Homo sapiens: one gene and its partners. The gene in region 3 interacts genetically with the main gene of each other region. Each region holds a gene or a part of one and is shown on either strand. Other genes may lie near its edges. The genes, in order: EGFR, SPPL3, PSMD14, KRAS and RIT1.

Region 1 (6,535 bases), on a different chromosome or scaffold from region 3:
GGTCCACTCTCTGATGCCTGCAGGAGGCACCCTGCCTGCCCTCCTCGCCCTGTGCATCCCCACCCAGCCTCCTGGCTGCTCGGCCCTTGATGCTGGGTTTTGGGAAGCTGTTCTCTCCTCTTTGGTAGCATCATCTGCTTCATCAACAGGTTTGCTTTTTCTCAGGTGTTGAGTTCAAATCCCCTAACTCTACTTTTACAGCTAGAACTGAGAAAACTATCTGTACTCATTTATCTGTTTAAGCGTTTAGACACAGAACCTGGGTTTTCTATAATGTGCCACATAACGATGTTCACATGGTCCCATATGATTATAATACCACGTTTTCACTGTGTCTTTTTAACATTTAGCTATGTTTATATACACAGATCCTTACCATTGTACTGCAGTTGCCTGCAGTATTCAGTACAGTCCCAGGCTGTACAGATCATTAGCCTAGGAACAACAGACTACGCCGTATCACTTAGGCTTGTGCTGGGCTGTGCCATCTAGATGTGTGAAGTACACTCTGTGATGCTCGCACGGTGATGACATCTCCTAATGATGCATTTCTCAGAACATGCTCCTGTGGTAAGGAAGCCTGACTGCAGTCTGAGCTCGGACTCCCTAGAACCCTCCCCTGCCACACCGTGGCTATTCCCGATGTGCAGGTAGTGGCTTCATTACATTAAACACGGCAGTGAGAGCTCCTGCCATGAAAGTTCTGGGTGGAGGGTGGGACCACCCACATGTAAGAGAGGTTGGCGGTGAGTGGGGCAGCTGAATGGGAGGCCCCTTGCCCATGCTGGGACCCACTTAATTCCTCTGATTTTTAGCAGAATCAGGGCAAACTTCTAATTATTTTGGTACTCTGAAGAAATAAAACCTGGGCTTGCCATAGAAAAATCTGTTCCATCAGGGAATTCCCTCTTGGCTCTGTGAAGGAGAAAAACTATGAAGAGATCTTTGGAATGAGGGGTCTCAAGGGCACTGGAAGGCTCTGGCATGTGAAGAGCTTGAGTTGGAATGCATCTGAGAGCCCGAGGGGCTGGCCCAGACACAGGAGGAAGCCTCCGAGCTGGCTTGGATTTTTTTTCCATTAAAAAGTTCTCTGGTTCCTGAGGTGCGATGGTGATGGTGGGAGAGGCTGGTTAGCGACAGGGGGGGCTCTCTGAACTTTCTGCTTAGTTTTGCTGTGAACCTAAAACTGCTCTAAAAATAATTTATTGATTTTTTAAAAAAGTTATCAGGAAAGAACACCTACAGTTGGTTAGATATGATTAATAACTAGTACCAACATGGCATTGTTAACAAAGAATACATTATTATTATTATAAGGTACTCAGGAGTAAAGAACAATGAATAATATACATCTAATTTTTTAATACTCAATGCACAATCAACATTTCTGATCAACAGTATAAACCATATAAAAGAGAATTCTGCTTTTCATTTGTACAAATACTGCTTTCATCATTGCAAAACTTTCAAGGTTAAAACGTACCATATGTTGAAGCTATAAAGCTATTGCTTGAATGTTTCTAAAACGAAGTTATTGCTGTCTGTTGTTAATCGGTTACATTGTCACCTCTAATACCAGTCATCAAATCCATAGGATCTCTTAATTTCCAAGAGATTGTATTGTACAGCAAGATTATTTTTGTGGCCAAATCAGGTCATAGGATTCCTTTTTTTTTAAAGATAAGTAAATGCATCCAGAAATGTATGCACAGATTTAAGTTTTCCCCATAGTTTTATCTGCTAGGTGATAGGGTGGAGCTTCTTAGTGCTTCTGCTGGGAATTCAGATAGGACAGACTTGCAGCCTCAGAGGACACACTGCAGGTAGTGCAGAGAGACATGGAAGGAAAACACACTGCCTGCTACATAGTTTTTATCCCAGGTATAATTTGTGAGGAATGTATAACAAATGTTTCTTAAAGCATGAATCCTCTTCTTGAATTCTTGTTTTTATGAAAGCCATCCAACTACTTACTCAATCCTCTTGAAATCTGCCTTTTGTAATGTAACTGATAGGCCAGCGTTTTCTTTCACTGTGGGAAATAAAGGCTACTTGGTTGCTTTAGGGAGGGCAACAATGTCAGCTGCATAAGCAGCAAGAATATTATATTTTATTACTAGTCCACCCTTAATAAAGAGAGAAACCTTAGGAAATGGAAAGAGGTGTCTGTTTTATATTTCCTTTGCTTTTCAACCATTGTTTAGACACTCTCCCTTCTAGTGCTTGGAGAACCTTCATGGAAACTCTGTTCAGGTTCTTGACTCTCAGCGACAGATGTGGAGGTCTTTGTGTCTTAGCTCTCTAGGCCTGAGAATCACATACACCTGCAGAATTTGCCTCCAAGTCCATGTCCTTGTGGCTAATCCCTAGGCCAGTAGTTCTCAACTTTGGCCGCACATTGGAATGACCTCAGGAGCTTTAAAAACTACGAATGCTTGGGTTTCAGCCCCAGAGATTTGCGTTTAATCGGTCTGAGGTGTAGCTGGGCTTCAAGCTTTTAAAAGCTCCTCAGGTGATGTCACTGCAGCCAGGGCTGAATAACTTCTCTAGGGTGGCTGGGCCCAGGCTTGGTAAGACTGTTGGTGAACTAACCAAAGTGTGCTGAACATTATTAGGCTCTCCAGACATGTCTAGTTTATACTGGTAAATGCATATCAATTGTAAATATAAAAATAAAATTTGCATTGAAGTCACATTATATATATAAACCAACAAAGTGCTATGTTATTGCTTTTCTTACATGTACAGGGTTACACTGGCAGATGATGAGAGTATGGCATGCAACTGGATTTTTCTAGTAGTAACAACAGTGAGCCCTTTCCATTAACACTGCCCCAACAGAACCTGCCTCAGACCAAGCTAAATGTGCTTTCCATCATCTTTTAAAATTTCCTAAATATAAAAACGATGCTTCTCTTCTTCACCATGACAATGACCTAGCTTAGCTCCCCAATGAGGTTGTGCCTTTTTATAAGAGAGAGAAAGGGCTTTCCTCTTGCCTCAACTTAACCCTTTTAAACAAAGATTTCAGTTTCAAATTTTGATTCTATTGCAGTCTCTCTAAAGTAAACTGTGTTTGTTTTAGTAGAAAAATGAGTTTCTAAAAATATATTGTACAAAGTTCAGTGCTACATAAAGAGAACTATATCCCGCAACAAAGTTACAAAAATAGATTTACATTTAAAAATCCTGTCTGTGTCTTCAATAGTACAAAGCTGTACCCCTGGTATGGCAGGTGTGGCTGGTGAAAGAGGCAAGGATTTCTGTTCTGTAAGGTTTTACAGCCCCCAGGCAAGGAAATGTGAGCAGATCATTATGTTGCAATAAAAGTGTGTGCTTATCACAAGAAAGAAATGCAGAGTAGACATTGAGGGCAATTTCAACAGGTGTTGCCTACGTGGAATAGCAGCTCACTCACAAAGGAGGGAAGAGACTGGTTTCTATAACTTACTTAGAGAATGCAGAGGGTCCCAGGGCGTTTTCAAAGCTCAGGTGGGGGTATTTGCCCCTTTCCAGCTGAACTGCTGGTGAGGATGAATTGAACGCTTTTGAAATGAGCCAAGTCTCAGGCTTATCAGTGACTGCAGATTGTTCTCTCCACTGCACATGGGAATCTCTACCCTACCCAGCCTTTTATTCTACTCTGACGGGGGCTCTGGTACAGACCCACAGTCTTGTACAACTGAAGACCCTAGAAATAAGGGTTTCAACCCTGGTTGCCCATTAGAATCATGAAAGAGCCCCCGAGATTTGGGTTGAATTGGTCTGCAGAGACTCCAGGCCCCTTCTTTTGAAGCTCCACAGATGATTCTTTTCTGCCTGAGGGGAGGTGCTGAGTTCCCATCACCCACCAGCTTCATCCTACACAAGTGCAATCAGAGGCCTAGTGAGAGTGGCACTGGGGGGTGGCCCCCCAGCGAGTGCCAAGTAGATCCCACCAGGCCCTTCCTTTAGGCCAGAGGTTCTAGAAACTTTGATGAATGTTGCAATAACCAGGGGGTGCTCTGAAAAGGCCCTACGGCTGGGCTGCACCTGAGAAAATCAAGCCACAGTCTTTCTGGTTGGGACCAGAAGATTCCCAAGGGCAGCCGCCCTTGAGAACCAGTGCCTTTCCTGCTAAGCAATCCATAGTCCCCTTATGTCTGCAGTTGTGAGGCAGGGGTGGTAAGTCACAACATCAAGAACTTTCAGCAAACACCTAAGCTTTGGTGTCATCAGCTGGAGTGCAATAGGATGCATCCACAGTGCTCCCCCTTACAACCTGGACTCACAGCGAATATAGAGTTTAGAAGACTCATCCCTTCTCTGATCCCTCATGGGGTGACGGGCATGGTGTAATTAGAGGAGCTCCTTAGAGATGATGCAAGAAGATGCACGAAGGCTGGCGGCACCTATGAATGTGAGCTCTCAGCTCCTTACTTTCCTTCGACCTCTGTTTCCAAAGACCACATCTGAAGCTGGGGTCATGGGGTAAGGTCTTCCAGGAACTGACTGAGGAAGAAACAGCCAATGGACAGGCTTTCTGTAGGGTATTAAGGCCAGGCTATCAATCAGGAAGACCTTCAGGGATGGAGTCCAAGCTTTGAGTACTGACTGATCAGGGCTGTTAGGTGAAAATCATGGGACTTTGGGCAGCTCCTCTCCTGACCTGCCCATCACAGTCGCCAGATCCGTGAAGAGGCTAAGGGCTTTGCGGCTTCTACCAGACAGAACTGTGCCTCCCTGGACAGATGAAGTGAGAACTATTTTGGGAAGCACAATCTTAAAATTAATAGAATTTAGCAACTAAACTTTATGGTGGAAAATTAAAATATGAAGAAGAAAGCTAGAATAGCTTTTGCTCTTTTATTAAGTTACTGTTTCAAACTACAAAAATACTAGAATTTAATGCTACAATGTGACTCACTTACAACTGACCTGCCTCATCGATCATCTGCTTCTTGACACATAAGTGACAGCAGAATGTAGGTCCTTCTGTTTCCCAGTTCTGACTGAAATATTTCTGCATGTCCTGAGGTGAATGAATAATGAAAGTGGTTAACTGACAATATAAAATCTCAGATTCTTAGAAATGTTGTGTAGTCTTCTCACTAAGCATGTGCAGAGATGATAGCTCAAAATCCCCCTGGGGGCTGCAACTTTTAGGGAACTTGTGGGATGCTCCAAGCTCATCCCCTGGCTTAGAGGGAGCAGGTTGTTTAGGGTGACTGACCTCAGCCTTATGTGGACTTTAGCAGTGGAGGCCTCTGGCAGCTGTTTCCTCGGTCAGGGTGCCCCTGATGCACCTGCACTTTCCACCTCCCCGCTGACTGAGACCTGGTCATCCTCCTGTGAGGCCTCCCTTCCAGGTCTCCTCAGGCAGGACCCAACCTCCCTGCTCTGTGCTCTCACAGTGCCTGGCTGATGGGTCCTGTCTGGCATTTGTCACGTTGTTTTAAGGTTAGCATCTATGAGTCCATTTCCTTTGCTAAATTGTGAATTTCTTAGAATCAGGGACTATGTTTTATTTATCTTTGTATCTTTCATACCCATACCAGGCTAGTATAGATGCTTAGGGGTATTTGAGAGCATAATAGAGTGGAAATGAATATAGTTTTATTTTCATTGAGACAAAAATCAAATACTTTCTTAACAATGCTGTAGGGGCTCTGACTGATCTGGGAGTCAAAAATTACTTTAAAAGCAAAAGGAACATTTTGTATGTGTGTGTGACTGAACATAACTGTAGGCTGAAAATATTTTCTGAACCATTTCTTCCTTGATAAATTGGATGGGGTGGATATTGACTAGGAGAGTTTAAAACACTGTTTACAAAGGACTGCTGTTAACCAGTCAGGTTACAGGGCACACACAGATTAGGAAAAAAGGTGGGCTCCTAACTAGCTGAATCTTCCAATCTTCCAATTGTAGAGAAATTATTTTAGGAAGGAACTTTTTTCCTTCTAAAACATCTGCAAATGTTGTGAAAGCATTATCAATTTCAAACCCTAGTTTCATATTTACTACCTGAATTCCACACTACTCATAATGCTACTGTCATTCGCACCTGTAAAATGCCCTGTTGTGGCCAGAGCTGTAAGTGCTTGAATAGATGACTCAAGGCAGAGACACTTTTTGTGTGACAAAGCGTAAGGAGGGGGTTTGGGGGCAGCTGACCTGGAGGGAACATATACTCTTTGAGTAAAAAGCTTTTGAAGTGAAGTAAAAGGAGAAAACTATCTTCCATAAGTAACACAAACTAATTTTGGGGGGTTGGGGTGATGGCTAAAGGAGATTTCAGAGCAGCTTCATTTTTGTAGTCTTCTGATCTATGCCCCAAAGGACCTGATGCATTTCATCTGAGCCTCAAATTAGGAGATACGTTTTTGCGAGAACAAAAGCGGTGCTATCCTTAGGTATTCCACATTCTCAGCTGTGGGCTATTGGTCCAAATGCTGATGAATCCAATGTGGGCTGGAATCCGAGTTATTATTTGATGTGTCATCCTCTCTTGCTGATTTCATGACAGCAAGACAGGGGCAGCATACTGAGTTTC
Region 2 (6,535 bases), on a different chromosome or scaffold from region 3:
GCAAGTCAGGTGAGCAGCAATGGGTCAGATAAGGTTTCTTTACAAGAGAAGGTGGGTTTGACTTAGTGAATGTGGATTGGTGGAGAAGTCGTCATTTCAGGTTAGGGGAACATATAATAACAGGCACAGAGATCACGACCTATAGAACAGGGTAAGGTCGCCACCTAAGAGAGAGGAAATGCTAGAGATCTAATTAAAAGGTAGATCAAATATTGATTGGAGGACCATGGATGTTAAATTGAAAAGAGATCACTTATTGTGTATCTTAGTTTCTCCAGTTATTATAGCACGCTGTCAACCTAGTTGTATTTGCCCAGTTTTCACCGGGCACAGACCCAGTCACATGGGTTTCATTGTCCCTGGCAGTGCCAAAGTGGGCATGATAAAGACGGTAAGTCGACTCATTTAAATATAATGAGTCTTTTCTTAAATTTATGACATGGATCCTTGTATGATATAAAATTCCATACCAGTAGTTATTACTAGTGCAAGGAACCACATAAAACCTGGTGCAAAATCTGATTTTTAGATTAAATTATTACATAGCAGCTTATCTTCTGTCAACATTTTAAGCCAAATCAGTTTATACTCCTGAAACTCTTTTTAAAAGTCCTGTATTATGTAGCACATATGCAAGTGATGTTCTTAAACCAAATTATAAATCTGCTGTACATTGCATCACAGAAACCTAAAGAAATCTACCTATATTATTATGTCTAAGTTTACCTCAAAAACAAACAAAAACAAGAAATGGTTGTGCCAGTCCGTACAGTGGAAAGAAGTTACCTGGTAATACAGCTCTTTTTTTTTTTTTTTTTTTTTTTTTTTGAGACGGAGTCTTGCTCTGTCATTCAGGCTGGAGTGCAATGACGTGATCTCAGCTCACTGCAACCTCTGTCACCTGGGTTCAGGCAATTCTCCAGCCTCAGCCCCTGGGGTAGCTGGGATTACAGGCGCTCGCCACCATGCCTGGCTAATTTTTGTATTTTTAGTAGAGATGGGGTTTCACAGTGTTGGCCAGGCTGGTCTCAAACTCCTGATCTCAAGTGATCCATCCACTTCGGCCTTCCAAAGTGCTGGGATTATAGGCATGAGCCACTGCACCCAGCCAACATAAGCTTTTTTATTTTTTGTTCATGAAGCACAGTCTAAAGAGTGGTAGAATACTTCTTTTTTAAATGCTTTTTTTCTTTTTTTTTTTGAGACAGAGTCTCACTGTCACCCAGGCTGGAGTGCAGAGGTGCAGTCTCTGCTGACTGCATCCTCCGCCTCCCGGGTTCAAGTGATTCTCCTGCCTCTGCCTCCCGAGTAGCTGGGATTACAGGCACCCACCACCACACCTGGCTAATTTTTGTATTTTTAGTAGAGATGGGGTTTCACCATGTTGCCCTGGCTGGTCTTGAACTCCTGACCTCAAGTGATCCTCCAGTGTTGGCCTCCCAAAGTGCTGGGATTATAGGCATGAGCCACTGCACCCAACCTAAATGGTCTTTCTTAACTCTGCCAGCTATGTTGTACTAAATTATCCTTGACAACATTTCTTCAGTGCCTGCTCTGAGCAGTGGATGCCAATAGGATAAGGACAGATTAGCATAGACTGCAAAATTCACTTCCTCAAAGAAGAACATAATGAAGAAGCCATTACAAAGACGGCCGACCAGTACTTGATTATGGAATATAAAATTATTACAGATTGAAAGGATGACATGGAAAACAGGATGAATTTATCAAGAATCAAAGAAATAATAGCCAGAAAGATGAACAGAGAAACAGAGAGGTGTAGGTGCTAAGGAGATGGAAGTCCTGGATGATTAACAATGTGGAACAACTGGGGAGAAGGTTTTGAGAAAAAGAAAGTATAAATTTAGTGTTAAGATTTTGTCAGGAGTGTTTCAGACTGATTGAAGGAGACAGTAATCAGAAGTTTTTAAAAGATTGTAGCTGCCCACTCCCAAAATAATAAGAAACAAGGAATTTGTAAAGAGATAGGAGAGCAGGAGAAGTTGTAGGTGTAGCCAGCATCATTGGTGGGGTACGTGGGTGAAGGGTTACTCTTACGATTACATGCTTTGAATATGTCAGAAATGATTTGACTGTCCTTGATTATAATAGGAGCTAGGAGAAGGAGAAGCATTAAGTGAGACTCAACAGAGGGTTAGATGGGCCATGTGACTCATGCCCCAAAAAATCAGAACTTAAAAATGGAGAAATCAGTTTGTAATTGAAAGTTTCTCGCTGCAGGGTGCCCTAGGGTATTTGACCAAAAGACTGGGTAATTATTACTTCAGATTATAATAATGTTCCACCTATCTGGGCAACTCGAAACACATGGAAGTAAGAGGAAGAGTTGATCAGGCCTGCCAGGAACTATGGCACTCAACTCATTAGAAAGCAGAAAAGTAAAAGTGAAGACAGTAATGAAAAAGCACTACATGCCCACCACCAGAATAGCTAAAATTAAAAACCTTGACCATTCCCAGTGCTGATGAGGATGCACAGCAACAGCAAAGAGCCCTCTTGCGTTACTGGAGAGCATGCGTTAGCACAGTCACTTTGGAAGGCAGTTTGACATTTTACCTACTAAAGGTGACAGTATAAATACCCTTGGACCCAGCAGTGTCACTCCTAGTTATATATCCAGCAAATACAGTCACATGTGCATCAAGTCATGTGCAAGAGTGCCTAGAGCAGCAGCATTTGTAATAACCAAAAAATTGGAAACAACCCAAATGTCAACCGTAGAATGGATAAATTTTACTGTATTCATACAGTGAAAACAAGTGAACTGCTGTAGCTACATAAAACAGCATGGATAATTCTCACAAATCATATTGAGTCAAAGAAGCCAGACACAAAAAAATAACTACATAACTCAATGCATATAAAATTTAGGAAACAGGCAAACTAGTATTTAAGGATGCGTGCTTGGGTGGAAAACGTGTCATAAAAGTCAGGATAGCGGTTCCCTTCAGGAGAATGAGAGAGAGAGAGAAAGTAGTGATTGAGAGGGACACAAAGGAAGATTTCTGGGGTTGGTTTGTTTCTTGACTTGAGTGGTATTAAATATGTAATAATTCATTTTTGTGCTTTTCTGGGTGTGATGCTTCACCATAAAAAAGGTTAGAAAGTGACAGGAGTGAGGGTGGAGGGCAAGAGTTCCCTCCAGGTCCTCTGATTTCCCCTGACCTTGTTCTAACTTCTCTGCCTGCCCCCAAGAAGCCAATATAGAAATTTATTTTCCCATGGCACATCAGTCCTTCATTTAAGTAGTATTAAGTGGAATTTTAAAAAGCCATGTACACCCCTGCCCAATTATCTGACATCTTAAAGACTTTTACTAAACTTCAGTTATAATTTATTTGAGTTATAAAGATTGATGGAGATGTATAGTTGGGATCCTCATCTTTAGTAGAGGTATACATCTTAATCTTCTTGCTTAGATTGTAAACTTCATGAGATCTGGAAATGACTTTCTTTTAATCCCTCCTGTTGCTTACTATATAATAAGTGTTCAGCAAATAGTCAAAAGCATCGTTCTTACAGGGAGGTGTAAAATCAGTAATTTTCTTAATAGTTATTGGTTTTATTGCTCAGTGTCTATTCCATACCAGACGTACATTTAGCCTGTAGCCATGTTCATTGAATGTTAAAAATGATGTTGCTGTACAAAATTTTTAATTCCATTACCAAGCCTATTTCCTATGTTGATTTTTGCCTTAAAGATAATGCAACTGCACTTGCATATGTCCTCCTAATTATGGCTAGTCTGTTTTGCTTTGCTCAGTTTTGCTTTGTTTTTAAGTTACTGGAGTTTGGCTAAAATTTCTAATTAATTACCTCTTTCTTTCCCATTCAAGACCTTTATCTCCAGAACTTTAGGAAATGGAGTACTGAAGTCATGGACATTGTTTTAGGTAGCATATTGTCAGGAACTAAAGGCGCTTTACTTGCCCTGTGACATCGCCTCCTGGTTCAAAAATCTGTGGTTTAAAAAAAAAAAAATCTGTGCATTCTATCTAATACGCCAGAAAGGTCCTTTGTATTCAGTTTCGCATGTAATTGCAGACTGAACTTTTAAAATTTAGCTTTATTATAAACAAATGCATCTCTTATATACCTCACCACTACAGTCTTTATTCTAGCTAGCCATTTAATTTTCTCTTCATACTTTGAATCAGTATAATCTGTCTATAGACTCCCTGATGCTTTGTTCCTATGATAAAGTTATTTATCTGAGAAACATTATTTTCTGTAGTGAAAGGCACTGAAAATCTGTAGCTTCCTCTAGCTGTTCTTTGAACTACTGTAGAGCACTTACATTTAAAAACTATTTAGGTAAAATTTAGTTAGAGATTTCATAGAGTTTTGTCTAATGGATACACTTCCCGAAGTGATCCTTGGGCCAAGCTGAATGGATTTGACTAGGGTCAGGACAGACTGCTTCCAAGATAATTTCTGTTTGTCATGACACATAGTTCACTTTTCCTAAATTGAATTGTCCTATTCCTAAGTGAATTACTTCACTCATCTGCCTAGTCCCTGAGAAGCATTTTGTTTTATAGATTTAGTCAATCAAAAACCCTAAATAACTCTTTTGGGGACAGGCAAATTTAAATACCTAAGAGAAATTTTGTTGATCATTGTAACCCTTTGTGTCTTGCTATGTTTATCCTGGTTACATATTTTATTTGTAGCCTTAATATAATGAAGAGACCTTTCCTTTTTTTTTTTTTTTTTTGCCTTGGACTCCTGGGCTCAAGTGATCCTCCCACTTCAGCCTCCCAAGTAGCTGGAACTACAGGCTCAAGATAACATGCCTAATTTTTTTTTTTTTTTTAATTTTCTGTAGAGATAGGGTCTCCTTAGTTTGCCCAGGCTGGTCTTGAACTCCTGGCCTCAAGTGATCCTCCTGCCTCAGCCTTTCAAAGTGCTGGGATTACAGGCATGAGCCACCACACCCAGCCTTTTTCTTCTATTATTTCATTATTATAGATCATATGAAGATTTCTTTGATTCCTTTTGTGCGCTTTTATGACATCTCAATAGAGTTAATTTGGAAGTGAGACAAGATAAAACTGGTAATTTTTTTTTTCATTCAGTGGTTATTAGAGTTTGCCATGTTTTCCTTCTCTACCAAAAATACTCTATTAATGGTTCTCAACCCTAGATGCAAAATACAGTTTTGTGAGGAGCTTTTAGCTGGGCCTAACTCCTGTGATTTCATTTAATTTGTCTGGGATTGGACCTGGGCTTTGTAATTTTTTTAAAGCTCTAATGGGAAGCCAAGAATTGAGAACCCTTGCGCTAAATCCTACTCTAGCCCAAGAGATTATTTTCCCGTATTCATCTCCTATTCTGGTACCTTAAAATGTTCCCATAAAATAAATTTTTTTTTTTGTAAATATTAATAGATAGAAACGGGGGTCTCGCTGTGTTGCCCAGGCTGGTCTTGAACTCCTGGTCCCAAGCCATCCTTCCACTTCAGCCTCCCAAAGTCCTGGGATTACAGGCGTGAGCTACCACATCTGGCCAAATAAAATTTTTCTGATTTGCTGTTTTCAGCTATGACTTGTTGTCCTCCTTCTCCCCCATCAGCCAAGTCAGTTCTCAACTATTAGCAACAACGAGAAAGAGTGAAAATGAGTACCTTAAACCCACAGGTGATGAGAAGTCCTTTTAGTCAATGGGTTTAAACCACCTCTTTTACCAAACCTATATTCAAGACCACAAATTTACCCAAATGGACTAATCTGGGTTTTTACTACCTCTTAATGTTCTCGGTGGTGGTTTGGATCCTGTCATCCAGATGGTTAACACCAGGAGGTAGTAGTTCACTTCAACAAATATTCCTGAGTGTCTGCTGTAATGAAAGGCACCATGAAGAGAACAAGGAGCTCATAATCTCGTTGGGAAAGAAAGACTCATAGGGCCTGGATAATCCATGTCCTACGTATAATCCGTAGAACTGTCTGCATTTTTGCAAGTTAATGTATATGAAGTGCATAGGCACAGTGCCTGGTGCATAATAAGTTATTAATCTGTCTGTTTTTCTCTTTCAGGCATCCAAACAATTGACTCTACCCAGGCTCTGTTCCTTCCAATTGGAGCATCTGTCTCTCTTTTAGTAATGTTCTTCTTCTTTGACTCAGTTCAAGTAGTTTTTACAATATGTACAGCAGGTAAATATGAGTTTCTCTGTCTAGTCTTAACATACTAAAAGGAAAATTTTTCACCTTTATCATTGTTCAAAAATTAAGATTTATATACCATGTCATGTAAGTTTTTCCTTATAAATCTTGGCTTCGCCTTCTCCGTCTCAACCACGCCACCCTTCCCCAACTCCTCCTTGAACCTCTTGATCCACGTCATCTGTTGAGACCTGCCCACACAATCTGAAAGAAAGGCTGGAGACGTCAAAGTGCAGGAATTCTATGACACCAGAGCAGTATTGCTGTGCTTTGGCTGTGGCGCTTTTTCTAGATTACCAGAAGGTTGAGCTTGGCATAGAGGCCATTGTCAGCCTCTACCCACGTTC
Region 3 (5,828 bases):
ATCCAAATCTAACCCTCACTGGGATTTTGGTTCCCTGCTTTCTGCCACCACCATCTCACCTCCTTTTGTAACTCTTTTTGTGGTAAATGCTGTGTTGGCATTTCTTAAGGTTAGTGATCCTTAAATTTTCTTGTTTTTTTTTCCATTTATCAGATGCTATGAATAAATCATAGATTAAAAGTTCACCTGATACAGAGTCTTGTCTTCAGGCCATAACATACCCAAACTGTTAAGATTTCTTACGTGTGAAATTCTCAATAAAGAGGTTTTATATTGGTGCCATTATTGGGAGAGGAGGGCAGTAGTGGTAGCCAATCTAAATGTTATAATTATTTCAGAATTACTCTGCCAGAAAGTTATGATCATACATAGAAGAGTTTGTAGCTAACTTTGAAAGTAGTGGAAAGTGGTTTTCATGTATTGTTTGGGTTAATTTAATTTTGATTATATTTGGTTTTTAGTTCAGGTAATTTTTTTGTTGAAAACTTCAAATGACAATTTCTTCATGGTTACTAAAGATCACTCATGTGGAGTAGTTTCAGATTTTTTTCTGAATACATGTATTACTTTTAGAGATGTAAAGATGTGAAATTACTAAGAGAGAAACCCATGTGATTTGTTTAGTGGATCAAAAGTCGGTAGCTCCTTTGATCCTAAGTGCCACTGATAGTTAAATAGATACTGAAGCTATGGGCAGGCTGGATTGATAAGAAAAAAGGAGACAGAGAAATGGGAAATTGGGAAAGAACTGTGCAAATAGGAAAAGGAGAGAGCAACAGAACAGAATTAGTACCACAGTGCCGTAAGTGCCACCTCAGGTACTTCCATCTCCCATCTCCTGAAGAATTCAGTAACAGTTTGCAAATGGTCAACACAATCATTTAGTGATCCTGTTTGATATTTTCAATACTTTCTGTGTATTTCTTGTCTGTTTTCAAAATGATGATGCTGATAGTTTTTATTGCCCTGAAGGTTATTCTGAAGTTTAGCATAATTTTATTTGTTCAGTAAATTATTTGAATAAAAGTTGTATGAATGAAAATTCTGGTCATCATTATTTTTGGTGATTATCCTGCAGTGGGAATAGAGGATTTATAATTTTAAACTCTGTCCTTTGTGTTTCATTCACAGGCTGTAGAAGAAGAAGATAAGATGACACCTGAACAGCTGGCAATAAAGAATGTTGGCAAGCAGGTGAGGTGTACTGTTAATAAGTTATGCAGTTGCATAATAACATGTTCTTATAGAGTTAAAACTGTTTTAGGGCCTATATAATTTTTTTCCTGTCCACTCTATGTTTTTCTTCTGTCATGTAAATGTGATACTAATTGTAAAGGTCACTAAATTTATTTGATGTCAGGTTCTCTATAGAGAAGTAAATCACAAATACCTAAGAGATATTATCGTCAGTGAAAATAATTTACTAGGAACAAATTAGGACACTTGTATCCTGAATTAATTTTTTAAGTATTATTTTTACCTACAGATAAATAAGATAATAGAAGGGTAGATTTATTTCATGTGTAACAAGTTTTGTTAATCATGTACTTTATCAATATGTAGGTAATATTCCTGAGAAAGGTTAGAGCCTTATTGGGTTATACTGAGTGAAGAGAAAGGGCTTTAAGTATTTGCTCTTTCACTTTTCTAAGAAGAAATATATATTTTAGTCTCTATTATCTGAGGGTGGGGGAAGACACCAACCAATTAAAGGAATCTACAGATTAATTAGACTGTTTTTTAAAGAATGTTGATTACATTTTTTCCCCATTTCATGGAACATGGTTATCATATTGCTGATGTTGGCAGAATCTTGATATTTCAGATGCAAGACACTAAGCTGTCTTTGCTTTCAGCCATCCTACCATATGCTCTGATCCCATCACATCTCACAAGCTATGTAGGTTTGGGCCAGGACCATTCTTGGATGGGAAATCTCTAAGAATCACCCAGCTGCCACAAGAAGTAATGTAGATAACTGAGGGAAGCGTGTTACCAATTCACTATAAAATGAATTACTCCAACAGAGCAGTAGGGGCAAAGGTCTGACTTTATCATATGTCATAAATGAGAAAATCAAATTTCACTACCTTCTAAGTATTACAGTTTAAAAACAAGTACCCTCAAAAAGCAAAATGAAATACAGTTCATTTTATTTTCTCATCTTATGTGATATCACCCTTGTTATCTTTTCCACTACTTATTTTAATCATAATACTAGATCACCAACTTGGAGCCTTATACTTTATAGAATTCAGTAACTGTTTTTTGAATAAATGCCTTTCCAAGGCCATAGTTTCTTGATACAGATTTAAAGCAGCAAATAAAAGGTCTAAATACAAAATGAAACTGAAAAATATGTAATTGGCAAAGTTTAATAATCATCAGAATCATTTTTAAAAATATAGTTATTACCTCACTGGTTTGGCCTACTGCATGGCAAAAGCAAAACTGTCTGTAATGGAATTAAACCAATATCTTTTTTTCTCCTGCCAGTGTTTCTCAGTGTTTTTCACCTAAAATGCCCTAAGACTTATTTCTGAAATAAAAAATATATTGTAGTCTAGTCACTTAATTATTTGTAACATGTTGTATCTCTGGGTTGTTTAAAAAAAAATAGTGTATTAAAATAAGGGTTAGAAAAGCATGGCCAAGAAATAATTCCAATAATGAACATTTGTTTAAAGTTAGGAGTCTTGGGTATTTTAACAATAATCGTAAGAATATAATCATTTAAATTATAATTTTTCTATTGTGTATAATATATATTCCTTATTTCAAAGCTCTGAAATTTTGCTCAAATACTTAATTCTGCCTAAAACATAAATACATACTAAGCATTTTAATTTAAATTAGTTTATTACAATACAATTTTAAGCCTCCTTTTTAACTCAGTCTATTTCAAAAATAGATTTGATCAGGTTTAAGTTAAAGGATTGCACCTGTATAATTTGCTATGATACATTTTTTTCAAAATAGCTACATGAAACATTCTTAACATTTTAGAATTGATCCAAATTGTATTTAAATTCTTCAACTACAAACGGCAGCTTTTGATCCAAGAATATTTTCTGAATCATTTAAAGCACTACTCTTGAAATATTAAAATTGTACAGAATTCTGATTTTTGCTATTATAAAACATAGAAGAAGTGCTGAGAATTCACACTGAACTCTTACCCTTTGGTATGTCCGCTTTGAATTAAGCATTCTCTCAGACATTCAAGATATATGAACGGTAGAGAATATACACATATATTCAGACAGGTATACATATATAAATGAAATTTTTTAAAAAATCAGATGATTGTGAGCTGTATAGAATTCCTTGTTACTCTTTATAAAAATCTCTGGTACATAGTCATTGCATTGTATAAATCAAGCTTTCATTGTGTAATCTATTATTTTATTAGCTACTTAACTTTTTGATTTAGAAATTCTAAGAATGTAACAATATACTAGTAAAGTTAAATTGTAAAATATTTAAGTAAGGTCTGGCTTTCTTTACTAGTTTCATCAGCTACTGAAAAAAATTTAAGTAATTTATCTACCAGTAATATGGTTCTGTTTTCTCTTTCCTCATTTTTGTTCTTTTAGGACCCCAAACGTCATTTGGAGGAACATGTGGATGTACTTATGACCTCAAATATTGTCCAGTGTTTAGCAGCTATGTTGGATACTGTCGTATTTAAATAAAGCAACGAAAAACGCTATTAATGATGCCTTCAGTGTATATTCCTCTGTTGTTCCTAATGCTCAAAATCAAGGGACCTCTGAAGGTGTACTTGGCTAAATGTAAGACATCTGGCATCATTTGCAGCACTGTAACACCTTCAGTCTCAGTTGTGCAATTACTTCTGTTTCTTTAGTCAGGGTCTTTGCAGATTCTAAAGTTATACATGAATACATCAAAGTGGACAAATTTTGTTAAGATCCCATTTAATATTTGAAAAAATCAGTAGCACAAATATATTTTGATTGTCACTTACAAAATAAAATACATTTACAGTCTATGCCTCCTGAGATCTTTTTGGCAATGGGTGGGATTGATGGAATAACATTTGACAGTGGTCTAGAAATCTCACACAAAGATATGTTTCCGTTTGCATTTTAAGATCTTACAACACATAAAACATCAGTGTGATAAAACTTCACAGATGTATAATGATTTCCATTAATGAGTGGCTACCTAATTAGTGAGTAACTCAGAAAAAATGTTGACATTTTATTAGCATTTGTCATAAGCTAAATATTGTATACTCACTATCTTATAAACATACTTTTAGGATTTTGGAAGAGTACATTTACAAAGAAAAGGGAGCAATTTTAATTTAGACTTTATCATGTTTTAAAAGAGTACATTTCTACCAACAGTTTTGAAACTGGGAATTGGCTGCTGCAAACTCTACTGGACTTTCATCTAAAATAGCCACAGAAAGTATATGTCTAAAAAGCAAAATGAGAAAAGTAGTCATAATGTGAGTTTAATATAAGCTTATAAGCAATAATTTTGCTATTGTTTGGTCTCATCTTTTCTAAATTAGGACTACCCAGTTTTCTAATAGAGAAAAAAAAATGGCTAATACCAACTTCTAATGTGATGTACAAAAGTAACTGCCCCTGTTATTACTTACGGTTCAGAACCATACTGATTATACCATTTGTATGGCAAAAGATACAGAGACAAAGATCTAATTCTAGTCTGCACCCTTGTGAAAATATGGTGAGAGTATTACTGTAGCTTCATTAAAGGAATGTTTTACATGGACTTGCAATTTAACTTAACCTACTAGAACTGTTATGAGTGCTGTGATAGATCAAATTACTGTCCTACTGGAACAAGTCTAGGCTCTTATTGGTTCCCTAGTGAAGTTACCAGAAACTGAAAGTCAAAATGGCTTAAATTCCCAGTATGTTTCACAGTATCTTTTTTGGTGGAGTAAGAAGTATTCTGAGCATTTCTTGCTTGTCCTGTGGTTTACTGTTTCAGATATAGTGACAGTATATTTTATGTAGGACATGTAATATGTATTAATTTAAGTTGTTGGGATTACATTTAACCATTTAAAATTCAAATATAAGTGGAAGTTAGTGAAATTTTCTTTTGCCTAATTCAAACTTGTGTGCAGGCTTTTTGGATATGATTTTTCCCTTTGCAAATAAGATTCTATAACTTATTTCACAGATGTTGTTAATGAGTGCTAGTCAATGATTTTTTGGGGGGTACAGTGCCCTCAGAAGAAGGCCTTAACATTTCAAGAACTATTCTCAATATTTGGGTTGAAAGGGTTTTTTTGTTTTTGTTTTTGTTTTCTACTTAGTCCTCTGAAAATATCCTGAGTCCTGTGACTGGAAAGGCTTACCTTGCCTGTTTTTTTGCCCTTATTTGATCACCCCATCTTCCTGGACTCCCTATAGCCACACACCACTTACTCTCACTTAGTTCATGTTGGTGACATTCCCAGTTTCAGAACCTTGTCAAAATCTTTGCTAGCAAAAACCTACATTACTTTTTGTAGATTTGGAGTCGATCAAAATCAAGATGCCCTAAGAGGCAAGGCTCAGTGAACACCTTTGTCTTGGAATGTACAGCTATTTTCGCAGCAGCCTGATGTCCCAGGCCCAGTTAGGCACTGAAAAGATGCATTTAATCACAAACTTAGTAAGCTGTTTAAGACTGTATATGTATGCGCGCACATGTGCACGCAATTACCCCTCCATCATGCAGAGGTAAAGCAGCTCTGGAAACAAAACTGTTTGTCTCTAGTGCAGAAATGTCCCTGCTTTTCTCTCAGACTAATACGGGGGCACTGAAAGCTCCGGCCTCAC
Region 4 (6,535 bases), on a different chromosome or scaffold from region 3:
GATCAAGAACATCCTGGCCAACATGGTGAAACCCCATCTCTATTAAAATACAAAATATTAGCCGGGCGTGGTGGCGGGCGCCTGTAGTCCCAGCTACTCAGGAGGCTGAGGCAGGGGAATTGCTTGAACCCGGGAGGCGGAGGTTGCAGTGAGCCAAGATCGCTCCACTGCACTCCAGCCTGGCAACAGAGCAAGGCTCCGTCTCAAAAAAACAAAAACAAAACAAATGAAAGAAAACTACCATGGTAAACTTTATGTTATGCATATTTTACCACAAAAAAAAATTTTTTAAAGGTATTATATGGAGAGTCAACAATGCAAGTGTACATGCTGGTAACAAAAAGTTATTGACAAAACAAAATAATTTCAAAAATGGGATAGCTCTACCAACTCTATTATTCAAGATGATTTAAATGACAAGAAAAATCAATCAACTTATAAATAATTGTCATGCATCTATTTTATCTATAGTCAAAGGCACACATAAGGAAATGGGCAATACTCAAGATTCTAATGGCCTCATCCACTTCTGAAAACTGTGGAAAAATAATCTAACAGCCAGATGGATATCTCTAAAGAGCAATATTGTTTCATCTGCAAATCCTGAGGGGCCTCTTTTTTCTTTTCTAAAAAGAGAGAGAACTGCAACTATAAGATTAAGTAAAAGAAGGGAGTGGGTAACTTTAACAGAATCTTGAAATAAAAATCTGATTTTCTTCTGACTTTTGGGTAATACTTCTGCTCAAGATTTCACACATTCTGCCAAAACAGTCCTCAAAAAATATGGTAAAGGGATGTTACAATGTGAAGCCATGAAATCATGAAATAAGAAGCAGGGCTAACAACAGGTATAAAGCATAAACATAAAAGCAATTATTTTCTTAATGTTCCACATGTAGGCTATAGTATTAATGTATCTTTTTTTTTTTTTTTTGAGATGGAGTCTCGCTCTGTCGCCCAGGCTGGAGTGCTGTGGTGCAATCTCGGCTCACTACAACCTCTGCCTCCTGGGCTCGAGTGATTCTCCTGCCTCAGCCTCTTGAGTAGCTGGGATTCTAGGTGCACGCCACCACGCCCGGCTAATTTTTGTACTGTTTTTTTAGTAGAGATGGGGTTTCACCATGTTAGTCAGGCTGGTCTCTAACTCCTGACCTCGTGATCTGCACGCCTCAGCCTCTCAAAGTGCTGGGATTACAGGCATGAGCCACTGCGCCCAGCCTCTAAAGTATGTTTAGTTTATGAATTACTCTGTAGACCATTCTATCAGAGGGAGAAAGAGAGAAAGAATGGTCATTACAAATGTTGTTAGTAAAGTATTTCAAAATGTTTACAGTATAAGGAGAATATAAAGATGTCTAAGTGCAGCATGATCACAATAATATGTGTTTATGTATTTATACAAATCTACTATGTGTTTAAAAACTGGTAATATATACATCAAAATGTTATAAAGGTTATGTCTTTAATGGAGATAATTTAAAAGACATTTATCTTGGCCGGGTGCGATGGCTCATGTCTGTAATCCCAGCACTTTGGGAGGCCAAGGTGGGCAGATCACCTGAGGTCGGGAGTTTGAGATCAGCCTGACCAACACGGAGAAACCCCATCTCTACTAAACATACAAAATTACCTGGGCCTGGTGGTGCATGACTGTAATCCCAGCTACTCGGGAGGCTGAGGCAGGAGAATCACTTGAACCCGGGAGGTGGAGGTTACGGTGAGCTGAGATTGTGCCATTGCACTCCAGCCTGGGCAACAACAGCAAAACTCTGTCCCAAAAAAGACATTTATCTCTTGCTTATCTCTTTTCTTTGTACTAGATGCTATGTTAAATGTTTTTCTTTGGTTTTCAATTTTTTAAAGTATGAAAACCTACATATTAGACTATAATTTTGTGCTTATCTTTTAAAGCATATGGTATTTTCCAAACCATCTGTAATAAAAATTAATTATCTCACCAGTCAGAAAAAAAAGATGGATATTTATTTTCTAAATAAGAGGCTCTTTAGTAGAGATTTGAGCATTCAGTTGACATTTACTTAATTTAGCCTATTCTCTTATTAAATACTTGAAAGAACTCCTATAGATCACAAATTAAAAACCATTCTAAAGAGTAATGAAAAAGCAGGAGGTGGGAGCAAAGCACAGAGTCTTAGAGTCAACCCATTACCCAGGCATGGCTACAGAGCATGTAAAGCTGACCAAAGACTCTTCCTACCTATTGCTGCCACCTCACATTCTTTTTTTTTTTTTTTTTTTTTTTTTTTGAGATGGAGTCTTGCTCTGTTGCCTAGGCTGGAGGGCAGTGACACGATCTCGAGTCACTGCAACCTCCGCCTCCCAGGTTCAAGCGATTCTCCTACCTCAGCCTCCTGAGTAGCTGGGACTACTGGCACGTGCCACTGTGTCCAGCTAATTTTTGTATTTTTAGTACAGATTGGCCAGGCTGGTCTTCAACTCCTGACCTCAGGTGATCCGCCTCGGCCTCCCAAAGTGCTGGGATTACAGGCGTCAACCATCGCGCCCAGCCTGTCACCTCACATTCTTTACTTACCAATGTAGGCTGAGTATCCCTACTCTGAAAAACCAAAATCCAAAAATACTTCTAGGTCCTAAGCATTTCAGATAAAGAATAGTCAACCTGTAATGTGGGATATTAGTAGTTTATGTACATATTTCATAAGATGCTTCCATGGTGAATACACCAGTGCGACCGAGAAACTGGGAAAGCAGTCCCCTATTCACTGATAAATCTCATTCCTATTATCTTTTCCCTACCAGACCTTAAAAATATCGATAGCAAAGTTCTGAGACACATTCCGTTTCAAAGTAATCTATAACCTACTCATAAATAATACTGTTGATTAGAAATAAAAGGTTTAGGTTAAAAATTCAGTATTTTTAGAGTTAATTTTAACTAGGGTCCTCACTCTTAGAAGTGCAATTAGTCACTGAGCTATTTTCAGTGCAACTTGGTAAAAACTAAAGAAGAAAAAGTGTTAAATGAAATACGATCTAAAAAGAATGGATAAATATAAAGAGAAAACAAACGCAACAAAAATTATATATTAATAAAGATTCTGTTCCAACTTCAGGTCAGGCCATAAGAAACAGTCATCCCTGGTATACACACGGCATTGGTTCCAAGACCCCCCCAGCCTCTAGTCCTACAGTTGGCCCAGGAACATCCAGGTATATGAAAAGTCAGCCCTCCATATCTGCATTTGGTTGGGAAAAAAACGTGTATCACAAGTGGACCCATGGTCACTCAAACGCATGTTGTTCAAGGGTCAACTGTATTTGGAGGAAGAAAAAAAAATATGCATCAATGTAGACTCTTTCAAAAAATTTAGAGTCTAAATAAGGTTTCAGCAAGCTACTGCCCACAGGCCAAATCTTGCCCACTGTTTTTGTATTGCCCATTAGCTAGGAATAGTTAAATAGCTGTTTAAAAAAACAAAAACAAAAACCCAAGACTTTGTGACAAAGACCCATATGGCCCTTTATAGAAAAGTTTGCCAACTCCTGCTGTAAGTTAATAACTCTTCACATTATTTGAAGTATTCTCAACAAATATTATTTATTCTCTTTATATATTTTTTTAAATTTACCACTCTGAGAAAGTACTGGTTATGAAAACCCATCTGATTTTAAAACACAGAGATTCTGTAATGAAACTAGTTAATAATGGAGCAAAGACAAGGATGAAGGTGTTACGTTTTTAATTAGTATTTCCAGCCTTTCAAAAAAGTAAACTTTTAAATTAGGTACATAAGTTACCAAGGTTACTAATTTGTAGCCTTAGGAAACTACGATAAAATAAAGTAACTTAAACTAACTCACAATAAAATATTAAATGAAGGAAAGTTATTCCCCATAGTCCCCCCACTCCCAGCTAAAATATTATTTTTTCCATCTACATAGTAAAAAATTTTTCTAAATGAAATGTACTATACTGGCAAGACTGAATTGTAGACAGAATTCAAACATTTCTGGTGACATAATAAGCACAATATTTTTGGAAAGCAATTACAGTATTTATCTAAAGTCATTCAAATGTTCATAGCCTTTGACATAGTAATGTTACTATGGGAAATTATGCTAAGAAAATATGTGGTTTTTTTTTAAATGACAGTTATAAAGAGATTCTTAACATGGCATCCTAAAATGTCTTACAAAGAAAATTTACTTAAGCATTTAAAACTGACCCATAATCTTGCACCATTTACCTATCTTCAAAATATATCCTACATCCAACCACCTACCACCACCACCACCACCATCCCCCTAGTCCATGATAACTATTTTGTCTCAGGCAATCTGCAGCAATTGCTTCCTAGCAGGTATCCCTGCTGTTAATCTCACAATATAGTCTCCACACAGCAGCAAGTGATAGTTTATAAATGTAGGTTAGGGCTAGGCACCATGGGCTAGGCACCTATAATCCCAACACCTTGGGAGGCCGAGACAGGTGGATCACCTGAGGTCAAGAGTTCAAGACCAGCCTGGCCAACATGGTAAAATCCCATCAAAAATACAAAAAATACAAAAAAAAATTAGGTGTGGTAGTGTGTACCTGTAGTCCCAGCTATTTGGGGAGCTCAGGTGGGAGGACTGCTTGAGCCAGGAAGGAAGAAAATGAATGAATGAATGAATGAACGAAGGTAGGTTAGATCATGTCATTCACTTGCTCAAAGTCCTCCAATAGCACTCTTCGGTCTTAAAAATAAAAATGCAAAGCACTCTTCCTTCTCTGGTACCTCCTATGTTTCCTTCATAGCATGTATTATAATTTGTAATTATGTATTTACTTGTGAAATTGTTTAAGTCTATATCCTCTACTAGGCTTTAAACTCCGTGTTGGTAGGGCTCACGCCTGTTGTACTCACCACTACACACCCTCTACCTAACAGTCTTGAACGCTATAGGTAATTAGTACTGCCTCTTAAATAAGTGAATGAATCCATTTGATGTAAATATATGCAGATACTAAAAAATGAATGGAAATTTTATTAGAATTAAGCAGTTAACATAAATACAATTTAACAGATTTTTCAATTATATAATACAAATCCTTCTCAAATATTCTGAAGATACTACATATTTGAAATGAATGTTCACGACAAATGCCCCACTTTCAATGTAACAGTGTGCAAAGGCAGATTTTTTAATCTTTCAACAATTTGTTTTAAAATCTATGTTTCAATGTTCTCTTAGAAAAACAAGCACATGTTTAAGATACCATAAATTTTATCAAGACAATGAAGCTGTTAATTTTTAAATTACAATATATATTAAGAATAATTTAATAAATTTTACCTTCAATTAAATTTTATATAATATGTAAAGTTTTATGTAAAAATACAACCAAAACAATACACACAGAGATTTTAACACATTTATGGGAGGGAAGAAAATAAGACTAGGGAAAAGAATGCAGGAGTCTTCAACAATATTAACTTTTCTATCTTGGAAAAAAGAAAGAGCTAAATCAAATGTTGCTAAATGTTAAGATATGAAAGAGCTGGTTGGTACACACATGAGGTTCATTATACTACTATTCTATAAAGCACTAAGAGTGCACCCATTTTATCATTACTTAAAATGGATTTCATATTTTTAAATTTTTGTTGGTTTGATAAGCTACACATTTTTATTGTTTTCATACCAATTTCTTTGAGGAGTAATAATGTTATATAGGTTTTTTTTCTTATCTGCATATTTATCGCCAACGTGTGTCCTTTGCCCATGTGGAATTTTAATCTTCTTTTACACTGACTTGCATAATTTTTTTAATGAAGTGTTTCCTGGTTTATTAAATGCCTTTATTTTGAGGAATTTAAAAGCTAACTCATTCAAGATAAGATAACCTCATTAACCAGAACATCAAGTTTGTCATTTTTCCATTATAATTAATAACTAAATTATTCAGTGTGTTCACCTTTTAACATACTCGAGTATGGGTTTTCCAACTCAGGCAGTGACTCTGACACAGAGACATATTCCATGTATCAAAACAAAACAATATATACATTCCAAGTATAGATTTTGTTTACTATATTGTAGTAAACAAAAAACCTAAAGAAACTAATAACTTTTACTAAAGGTAATCATATTACTATTAATAGTAATTACAGCAGTCAACATTTACTGAGCCCTTACTTATATGCCAGATACTGTCATAAGCATATTACAAACATCATCTCATTTAATCTCCATCTTCATTCTGCCAATTCCATGAGATGCTCTTCTCAATATAACTAGAACTGCTGAAAATGTCAATAATGTATTACTCGGGGATTTCCTCTTGAAATTGTATGTTTTCTTAATGTATTAAGTATTGTAAGGACTTTTTACATACTGCTTAATAACACCTGTAGGAAAAGATGAGAAACTTTTACTCAATTAATGCTCAAGTACTTTACGTTACTCTTCCGAAAGGTTATTTAAATTCACTGTAGAATGATGTGTTCCGCACTTTCCGTTTATAAGCCATCAAAGACGGTTGTAGACTGTCAGAATTATAATAGGGAAG
Region 5 (3,500 bases), on a different chromosome or scaffold from region 3:
ATTTAGCTGGGGCCAGGAGCGGTGGCTCACGCCTGTAATCCCAACACTTTGGGAGGCTGAGGCAGGTGGATCACTTGAGGTCTGGGGTTCGAGACCAACCTGGTCAACATGGCAAAACCCTGTCTCCACTTAAAAAAAACTAGCTGGGCATGGTGTTGGGCACCTGTAATCCCAGTTACTCGTGAGGCTGAGGCAGGAGAATCGCTTAAACCTGGGAGGCGGAGGTTACAGTGAGCCAAGATCGCGGCACTGCACTCCAGGTGTCACACTCCAGCCTGGGTGACAGAGCCAGACTCTGTCTCAAAAAAAGAAAAAAAAATTAGTTGGATGTGGTGGTATACACCTGTGGTCCCAGCTACTCAGGAGGCTAAGGTAAGAGGATCACTTGAGCCCAGGAGGTCAAGGCTGCGGTAAGCCATGTTTGCGCCACTGCACTCCAGCCTCAGTGACAGAGCAAGACCCTGTCTCAAGAAAAAAAAAAGTTGGGTGCGGTGGCTCATGCCTGTAATCCCAGCACTTTGGGAGGCTGAAGCAGGCAGGCAGATCACCTGAGGTCAGGAGTTCAAGACCAGCATGGCCAACACGGTGAAACCCCATCTCTACTAAAATAAGAAAGAAACACTAAACAATACAACCATGAAACTGATCACCGGGATTGCAAATCTAATTGGGAAAAGAGTTGAGCAAACAGCTTGGACTGTTTGGAGTTGTTGCCTTACTTTTTAATATGTATTTATAAAGTATTCCAGCAAAAGAGGATGTAGCCTCTGGGAAAAAACAAACATGTTACAGTGTTTTTTGTAGATTCTCGTTCTATATCTCATCACAGTGCCAGCCCTGTTTTTAGCCGGAAAGGATTCAGGAGAAACATTATTATGCATTCTGAACTGGATGCATATTCCTAACTACTGTATTTGTTACCAAAAGTGGTTCTACAAATGCTACTGAAAAAAATCTGGAAATTCCTAATGTCCTGAGTATTAATAATAAAGTTTAAAAATGCTTTTATATCAAAAAAAAAAAAAAGAAAAGAAAAATTAGCTGGGCATGGTGGCAGGCGCCTGTAATCCCAGCTACTTGGGAGGCTGAGGCAGGAGAATTGCTTGAACCCAGGAGGCAGAGGTTGCAGTGAGCCAACATCATGCCACTGCACTCCAGCCTGGGTGATAAGAGTGAAACTCTGTCTAAAAAACAACACAAAACAAAAAAACGCTGGGTGTGGTGGCTCACATCTATAATCCCAGCACTTTGGGAGGCCAAGGTAGGTGGATCACCTGATGTCAGGACTTCAAGACCAGCCCGGCCAACATGGTGAAACCCCGTCTCTACTAAAATACAAAAATTAGCTGGATGTGGTGGCAGGCACATGTAATCCTAGCTACTCAGGAGGCTGAGGCAGGAGAATCGCTTGAACTCAGGAGTCAGAGAGGTTGCAGTGAGCCTAGATTGCGCCACTGCACTCCAGCCTGGGCAACAGAGTGAGACTCTGTCTCAAAACAACAAAATTAAAATAAAAATTAAAAAAAAAGAAAGCTGGGCGCGGTGGCTCACGCCTGTAATCCCAGCACTTTGGGAGGCCGAGGTGGGAAGATCATGAGGTCAGGAGTTTGAGACCAGCCTGACCAACATGGTGAAACCCCGTCTCTACTTAAAAATACAAAAATTAGGCCGGGCGCGGTGGCTCATGCCTGTAATCCCAGCACTTTGGGAGGCCGAGGCAGGCTGATCACGAGGTCAGGAGATCGAGACCATCCTGGCTAACACGGTGAAACCCCATCTCACTAAAAATACAAAAAATTAGCCAGGCATGGTGGCGGACACCTGTAGTCCCAGCTACTCGGGAGGCTGAGGCAGAAGAATGGCATGAACCTGGGAGGCAGAGCTTGCAGTGAGCAGAGATCGTGCCACTGCACGCCAGCCTGGGCGACAGACAAGACTCCGTCTCAAAAAAAAATTAGCCGGGCGTGGTGGCATGCGCCTGTAATCCCAGCTACTCAGGAGGCTAAGGCAGGAGACTCACTTGAACCCAGGAGGAGGAGGTTGCAGTGAGCCGAGATTGTGCCACTGCACTCCAGCCAAGGCAACAGAGTGAGACTCTGTCTCAAAAAAAAAAAAAAAAAAAAAAGAAAGAAACACAAAGGGAGGGAAAGAGATATATGCTTACACTAAAATATTGAAAACTATTAGGAGCCCATAATTGATACATCTAATTATGGATATGCCATAATTTCTACTTTTGGACAGCTAGATTGTTTCTCATTTTCTTCTACCATAAATAGTCTTGCAATGAACATGTTATATATAAATCCCTATAAATTTTTTCCAATGGAGATTAACAGAGAAGCATTATGAATTTGACTACTATCAAACTACTTCCAGCCAGGCGCTGTGGCTCACACTTGTAATCCCAACACTTTGGGAGGCCAAGGCAGGAGGATCACTTGAGTCCAGGTGTTCAAGATCAGCCTGGGCAACATAGTGAGATCCTGTCTCCACAAAAAGTAAAAACAATTAGCTGGGAGTGGTGGCACACGCCTGTGGTCCCAGCTACCCTCAAAGCTGAACTGGGATGATTGCTTGAGCTGGGGAGGTAGAGGCTGCAGTAAGCTGTAGCCCCAACCTCACTGCAACCTCCACCTCCCCAGGTCAAGGGATCCTCCCACCTCAGCCTCCCAACTAGCTGGGACCACATGTGCATGCACCACTATGCCCAGCTATGTTTTTTTGTATTTTTTGTAGAGATGGGGTTTCGCCATGTTGCTCAGGCTGGTCTCAAACTCCTGACCTTAAGCAACCTGCCCACCTTGGCCCCGCAAAGTACTGGTGTGAGCCACCTCACCCAGCCTGATTTTCTATTTTAAGGCAAAAAAATCTGTAAGCCAAGCCAAGAATCTGTAAGCCAAGAAACAAAAATGACTAATTGTATAAGATTATAGACAGTATTTTCTTCTCTATCCTCACCTGTCTTAGCTGTTTGAGGTCTGACTTGTTTCCCACAAGAACCACAGGTGTATCGTCAGTACGTCGGACTCGATAAATAAGCTGTTTAAACTCACGAACTTCATGGAAACTTCGACGATCCGTGATAGAGTAACAGATGATAAACCCTTCTCCTGCCCTCATATACTGGTCCCGCATGGCTGTAAACTCTGCCTAGAGGGAAACAAGGGTCATTATGTATTGACGCAATCTAGCCCAACTACACACACAATTAGCTATTTCTTTCAGATTAAAGAAAACGCATGTCGATTACCTGCTATCCTGAGTCAGAGTGCATGAAAAATTAAGAGAGATAAACTATTGATCTTCTCTGTGTAGGCCTTCCCCTCCCCTTTGCTAGAGTAAAAAAGCCTTTACTCATAACATTCTGGGATTTAATACCTGTCCAGCTGTATCCAAAATGTCCAGATTGGCAGGCTCATCATCAATACGGATCCTGATCTTATAAGCATCTTCTACAGGAGGGAAGAAAGGTGTACTATAAAGTCATAAATGCCGGA

The links.
Region 1: changes in PSMD14 (region 3) and EGFR together harm fitness more than expected from each alone (negative genetic interaction), as found in Homo sapiens cells (one large-scale study listed by BioGRID).
Region 2: changes in PSMD14 (region 3) and SPPL3 together harm fitness less than expected from each alone (positive genetic interaction), as found in Homo sapiens cells (one large-scale study listed by BioGRID).
Region 4: changes in PSMD14 (region 3) and KRAS are lethal when combined (synthetic lethality), as found in Homo sapiens cells (2 studies listed by BioGRID, with this or other methods).
Region 5: changes in PSMD14 (region 3) and RIT1 together harm fitness more than expected from each alone (negative genetic interaction), as found in Homo sapiens cells (one large-scale study listed by BioGRID).

What each region holds. Positions count from the first base shown.
Region 1 is NC_000007.14:55,206,377-55,212,911, reverse strand, and holds the end of EGFR (epidermal growth factor receptor isoform a precursor), read right to left. Parts: 3' UTR 1,284-6,535; downstream 1-1,283. UniProt on the Homo sapiens protein: Receptor tyrosine kinase binding ligands of the EGF family and activating several signaling cascades to convert extracellular cues into appropriate cellular responses.
Region 2 is NC_000012.12:120,784,118-120,790,652, reverse strand, and holds part of SPPL3 (signal peptide peptidase-like 3), read left to right. Parts: intron 1-6,059; coding exon 6,060-6,179; intron 6,180-6,535.
Region 3 is NC_000002.12:161,407,706-161,413,533, forward strand, and holds the end of PSMD14 (26S proteasome non-ATPase regulatory subunit 14), read left to right. Parts: intron 1-1,131; coding exon 1,132-1,194; intron 1,195-3,596; coding exon 3,597-3,695; 3' UTR 3,696-4,012; downstream 4,013-5,828. UniProt on the Homo sapiens protein: Component of the 26S proteasome, a multiprotein complex involved in the ATP-dependent degradation of ubiquitinated proteins.
Region 4 is NC_000012.12:25,228,853-25,235,387, forward strand, and holds part of KRAS (GTPase KRas), read right to left. Parts: intron 1-6,535. UniProt on the Homo sapiens protein: Ras proteins bind GDP/GTP and possess intrinsic GTPase activity. Plays an important role in the regulation of cell proliferation.
Region 5 is NC_000001.11:155,901,350-155,904,849, forward strand, and holds part of RIT1 (GTP-binding protein Rit1), read right to left. Parts: intron 3,456-3,500; coding exon 3,382-3,455; intron 3,154-3,381; coding exon 2,962-3,153; intron 1-2,961.